2 separate regions of the Homo sapiens genome follow, and region 1 is linked to region 2. Evidence: fine-mapped expression QTL. A gene starts in region 2. The other region holds a variant in brackets. All regions are shown on one strand. Distances are between the middles of the regions.

The links.
Region 1: its variant is fine-mapped to the expression of MPDU1-AS1 in whole blood (INTERVAL, PIP above 0.99).

Annotation. Positions count from the first base shown.
Region 1 is chr17:7,559,829-7,562,722 of GRCh38, forward strand. It overlaps TNFSF12-TNFSF13 (TNFSF12-TNFSF13 readthrough), which reads left to right. Exons shown (of 11, transcript NM_172089.4): 8 at 18-65; 9 at 221-339; 10 at 522-660; 11 at 896-1,773. The coding sequence ends at 1,005. It overlaps TNFSF13 (TNF superfamily member 13), which reads left to right. Exons shown (of 6, transcript NM_003808.4): 3 at 18-65; 4 at 221-339; 5 at 522-660; 6 at 896-1,773. The coding sequence ends at 1,005. It overlaps SENP3 (SUMO specific peptidase 3), which reads left to right and starts at 2,091. Exons shown (of 11, transcript NM_015670.6): 1 at 2,091-2,435. SENP3-EIF4A1 (SENP3-EIF4A1 readthrough (NMD candidate)) reads left to right here and starts at 2,164. Exons shown (of 22, transcript NR_037926.1): 1 at 2,164-2,435. RefSeq lists enhancers at 1,345-1,594, 2,861-2,894 and a silencer at 2,155-2,234. The variant C/T (reference allele first, on the strand shown) is at 1,268.
Region 2 is chr17:7,582,410-7,585,303 of GRCh38, forward strand. It overlaps MPDU1-AS1 (MPDU1 antisense RNA 1), which reads right to left and starts at 1,683. Exons shown (of 2, transcript NR_136402.2): 1 at 1,509-1,683. It overlaps MPDU1 (mannose-P-dolichol utilization defect 1), which reads left to right and starts at 1,443. Exons shown (of 7, transcript NM_004870.4): 1 at 1,443-1,556. The coding sequence starts at 1,454. RefSeq lists enhancers at 267-1,140, 1,092-1,141, 1,141-2,015, 1,252-1,781, 2,016-2,888.

The DNA of each region.
Region 1 (2,894 bases), 23 kb before region 2:
CCTCCTTCTCTCCTCAGAGCAGCACTCTGTCCTGCACCTGGTTCCCATTAACGCCACCTCCAAGGGTGAGCACTATTTTAAATAATGGCTTTGGGGAGGGGCAATAACCAGGAACTCGGGCTGGCACTTGGGCTCAAGGGGTCCTTATAGGTGAAAGGGAAAGAACCAAAAAGCACCTGAGAGTGCCAAGAAGTCCTGACCGACACACTCTCACCTCCAGATGACTCCGATGTGACAGAGGTGATGTGGCAACCAGCTCTTAGGCGTGGGAGAGGCCTACAGGCCCAAGGATATGGTGTCCGAATCCAGGATGCTGGAGTTTATCTGCTGTATAGCCAGGTAACCCCAGCCACACTCTGAGCTTCACAGAGGGCCTCTTTGGCCCCCTACTGAGGGTTCCTGACCCCTCTATTCATACCAAACCCAGCAGACCCTTCTTTCTTCCCTCGTTAGCGCTCCTGAGGCCTCCCAGAACTGAGCCAGGCCATCCTGTTTTCTTCAACATCTCCCTTCCCTGCCAGGTCCTGTTTCAAGACGTGACTTTCACCATGGGTCAGGTGGTGTCTCGAGAAGGCCAAGGAAGGCAGGAGACTCTATTCCGATGTATAAGAAGTATGCCCTCCCACCCGGACCGGGCCTACAACAGCTGCTATAGCGCAGGTGAGAGCCGTGTGGGCAGCCGAAAGCAGGACGTCTCTGACCGGGGGTAGCAGTGCAGGGAGCTACCGCTAGGAGGGAGGTTGGAAACCTAAACAGAGGCGGGTCTGAGGAGTGAAGTGCAGAATGCCGGGTCCTTACAGGAGGCAGAGGAACGGTGGAGCTGGAGAAGGCAGGGGGAAACAGGGCATCTGGATGGCTGTGCTTCACTGCGAATCTACTTTCTCTCTTTTCTCAGGTGTCTTCCATTTACACCAAGGGGATATTCTGAGTGTCATAATTCCCCGGGCAAGGGCGAAACTTAACCTCTCTCCACATGGAACCTTCCTGGGGTTTGTGAAACTGTGATTGTGTTATAAAAAGTGGCTCCCAGCTTGGAAGACCAGGGTGGGTACATACTGGAGACAGCCAAGAGCTGAGTATATAAAGGAGAGGGAATGTGCAGGAACAGAGGCGTCTTCCTGGGTTTGGCTCCCCGTTCCTCACTTTTCCCTTTTCATTCCCACCCCCTAGACTTTGATTTTACGGATATCTTGCTTCTGTTCCCCATGGAGCTCCGAATTCTTGCGTGTGTGTAGATGAGGGGCGGGGGACGGGCGCCAGGCATTGT[C/T]CAGACCTGGTCGGGGCCCACTGGAAGCATCCAGAACAGCACCACCATCTAGCGGCCGCTCGAGGGAAGCACCCGCCGGTTGGCCGAAGTCCACGAAGCCGCCCTCTGCTAGGGAAAACCCCTGGTTCTCCATGCCACACCTCTCTCCAGGTGCCCTCTGCCTCTTCACCCCACAAGAAGCCTTATCCTACGTCCTTCTCTCCATCTATCGGACCCCAGTTTCCATCACTATCTCCAGAGATGTAGCTATTATGCGCCCGTCTACAGGGGGTGCCCGACGATGACGGTGCCTTCGCAGTCAAATTACTCTTCGGGTCCCAAGGTTTGGCTTTCACGCGCTCCATTGCCCCGGCGTGGCAGGCCATTCCAAGCCCTTCCGGGCTGGAACTGGTGTCGGAGGAGCCTCGGGTGTATCGTACGCCCTGGTGTTGGTGTTGCCTCACTCCTCTGAGCTCTTCTTTCTGATCAAGCCCTGCTTAAAGTTAAATAAAATAGAATGAATGATACCCCGGCTCCATTTCCCCCACTGCCTCGCCTCAGCCCGGTCCTCGTACGGGGATCTCCCGCCCTCCTGGCTCTCCTGTGGCGCGCCCCCCGCCGGATCAAGGTACTGGGGATGCCGCTAGGGTCAGGCCCGCGAGCGCGGAGAAGACAGAGCGCGGCGCAAAAGGGAAAGTGGCGGGGCCGCCACGCGCGGCCGGGCGGCGGATGTGCGCAGGCGCAGCCTCGCGTAGCGCTCTGGGCTGGCCAGTCCCGTGGCGCCGGCGTCCTCGGGTAGACGGGACCGCGCGCTTGGTGGCCGCGCCGGCGCTCTTCGCCGGGTGTGACGTACTAATCGTGCGCCACCGCTGCCGGTGGGCCCGGGGCTCGCGGGAGGGGAAGGAGGAGGGGGGGAGGAGTGGCGGCGGCGGCGGTGGCGCTGGTGGCGGCGGTGGCGGAGGTGGAGGTGGAGGTGGAAGCTGAAGCTGAAGCAGAGCCAGAGGCGGCGCGGCGGGGTGCTCGGCGGCGCGGCACGCGGCCCAGAAGCGTTGGAATCCTGAATTGAGACGGCTGCGCCTAAAGACAGCAGGAGTGGCGGGGCCGCCGCCGTCGCCGGAGAGATGAGCCGGGAAGCTTGAGGCCGGAGACGCCCGCCTTCGGGCCCGTCCGCCCGGCTTCCCCGCTCCCGGTGAGGACGCCCCCTCCCCTCCCCCCAGCCCTGCCTTGGCCTCTCCCATTCCTGGGCCTCGCTCCCACCGAACCGGGGCCCAGAGGCCCGCATAGGGGCTTCTTAAGGCCCGTGTGCGCCGAGCCATCCAAGCTCGTGGGACCGGACTGGTGCCGGGTTGCATTCTGGTCCCCGAGGATGAAGTAGGAGGGGGCTGGGCCGGCCTGGCTTGTGCGCTCCGTTCTGTCCCAGCGTCTTGATTCGGTTCTCTTTAAGTTTCCTTCAAAGTTCTTCCCCGTTTATCAGCCTCTGCCCCCTGAACCATATCCCTGGCATCTGCACTTGAGATGACCGCAGCCTTCCCATGCCCCCCGTTCATCCAGGGTGTTAGAGAACTGTCTCCCATTCCAGTCCAGTTTCCACGTGCAAGTTGCATTCTCCTCAAGTACCACGGTTATCATGTCCCTGAGGAAAGAAACT
Region 2 (2,894 bases):
ATTCCCAAAGGCAGCGCCAGTGGCTCCTGAGCAATGAGAATGTCCTGTCCTGTCCACCATATTCAAGGCCAGCAGAAGAGCCCGATTAAACCCTCGCAGCACCTGGCATGCTCCTATCCCACCTACAAGGGGTTGAATCAAGAAGGAGCAGTGGGTACTCTGACCTCCACTGGGGGCTCCTGGGAACAGCATGCCCCCCACACGGGGCCACCTGCCAAGCCTAACTTCATGCCCCCAGTACTTGAGATGAGGAGTGTCACTCTCAGGACAGCCAAGGTCCAGATTCCAGAAAGGACCTCCCAGATGGCCACAGCCTGCACCAGCAGTGAGCGCCAGTCCCACCCATTACAGCTGGCTACGGCGCAATCCCTGGGAGCCAGGATGAGCAGCACCCCCCAGCCGTAGGAGCCCCAGGAGGCTTCCGGCCTCCAAGGCCCAGAGACTGCCCCACAAGGGCAGCCCTCACCTGGCAGGGCCCCAGCAGCCCCACCTCTGCCTGCAGACATCCGTGTGACCTTGTAGACTTTGGAGGGGGGCCGCCAAAGGGCTGATCCACAGCGGAATGACGCACGGGTGGGCACCGTGGGTTGGCGTCCCGGCGGTCGGTAACGAAGCACAACGCCCCCACCAGGTAGTCCAAGGTGCCCTTTCCCAAGCAGCGCTGCAGGGTCCACTCGGCCTCGCCGAAGTCTCTGCCCAGCACGTGGTGCGCCCTCGGGCCAGCGGGGAGGGGGCGAATCCCGGGACTGCCTCGCCAGGCCTCGGCTCCCCGGAGACTCTTGGGGGTCTGGGCCCCAAGGGTGATTCAGGTGCTGCCCTTCCCCGACCTGGGCTCGCCTCCCCCACCTCCTCCTCTGCTTCACTGTCCCGGGCCCAGCAGTTGCCGGCGCACTCATGCTCCGAGGCCTGAGCCAACCGGAGGCGAGACAAGCACAGGGCCCTGCGCGCAACCCGGCACCTAAGGAGGCCTGCCCGGTGCAGACTCTCCTGCTCCCACCGGCGCCCTTCCCTCTAGAGACGCTGAGAGAACGGGAGCTAGTAGCGCCCCCACCCAACGCCACCTCGGAGACTCCGGCTCCTTCTCTCTCAACTTCGAACAATACAAAGTGTGCTAGGAGAAGACAAGATGGCGCCCAGCAGGAGGAGCGGAGAAAGGCAGGGGTGTAAATCTGGCTTCCAAACTGGAAGCGTCAACAAAGGCGTGGGAGGTCTAACCGCGCAGGCGTGCAGCTTCGGCAAGCTTTACAATTCCAACAGCGCGTCCAAAACGTGGTCCCTGACTGAGACTTATTTTACGCCACTAGAGTGAGGGTGGGTAGCGTCAGAAAGAGCGGGGCACGGGGCGGGCCAGCTTCGCCGCGGGAAAAGAACGGGAGGCGGAGTGTCCGCAGCGCGCACGCGCAACGAAAGTCAATGGCGGTCTGGAGAGACTGGCGGAAGCTAGCTTTGCAATATGGCGGCCGAGGCGGACGGACCGCTTAAACGGCTGCTCGTGCCGATTCTTTTACCTGAGAAATGCTACGACCAACTTTTCGTTCAGTGGGACTTGCTTCACGGTGAGTTTTATTCAGCATCCGATCCAAGTCCTACTCGAGTGACCGTGGGCCCTTAGTCCAAGCCTTGATCGGCGACTAAGTGACGGCAGTGACTGCCGCCATGCCGAGCTGGACGGAAGTCACTTCTGAGAAGGGCGGAAGTGTCTCGGGCTCCTTAGAGGGAGGACACCATATTAGTGCCAGTGGGGAAGTCACCGGGTGGAATTACTTCTTTGTGGAGTTTGTGCTGTAGCGACAATGAAAAACGAAGAGTCAACTTTTATAAAACAAAATAAAAATTAAGTCAAATCATGCCAACCTTTATTAGATCGCTAGCAGGGTTAAACTTAATTCAAAGCCCCTGATGAATCGGGCCTTCATTGCACCCCCAAAGGCTCCGCCACCCTGATTGCTTTCTTTCCAGCCTCCAGGTTTGCTCATAGTCTGATTTCGGAATAATTTGCCTCCCTTCCTTTTTCTGATTGCGAGACAGCTCCACAAGGGTCACCGTCAGACCGTTTGGGGAGCGTCAGTCTGCCCCTGTCAGTTCATGGTACCTCTCTTGAGCTCGTGGGGCACTTTGTTTTAGCCGCATTCATGACCCGTGAGAGTCAGACTCCCACTAGACCAAGTTCCTTGAGGGGAAGGCTTCAAGGCTAGAGAAGTTGTGGATGGCCAGGGCATAAAAGCAAGCCTTGAAAGGGTAAGGTTTAGTCCCTGAGTAGGGGCCAGGGACAGTCAGAGTGTTCAAGAAAGAGTGGTATGGGGCGGGCACGGTGGCTCACGCCTGTAATCCCAGCACTTTGGGAGGCCGAAGCGGGTGGATCACCTGAGGTCAGGCGTTCGAGACCAGCCTGGCCAATAGGGCGAAACCCCGCCTCTACTAAAAATACAAAAAATTAGCCGGGCGTTGTGGCAGGCGCCTGTAATCCCAGCTACTCGGGAGGCTGAGGCAGGAGAATCGCTTAAACCCGGGAGACAGAGGTTACAGTGAGCCAAGATCGTGCCATTGCACTCCAGCCTGGGCAACAAGAGTGAAACTCCGTCTCAAAATTAAAATAAGAAAAAAAAAATGGTATGAAGACTTGTCTTTGGAGAGAGAAGACATGTGAAATGGGGCACCCATTGGCCCAGAGAAGGGAAATAAAGGATCAGAGAGCTCTTGGGCATTTCTCAGCTTTATATGGGGAAGCAATGGAGAGCCGTGGAGGTCAAGCCAAGTTTGGGTGTTAATTTATAGGGAATGGAAGATTGGATGTGGGGGGTGGTAGGCATCGGAGAAAAGCTGTTTTGGAAAGTAACAGTCTGGGGCCCGGTGCGGTAGCTCGAGCTTATAATCCCAGCACTTTAAGGAGGCTG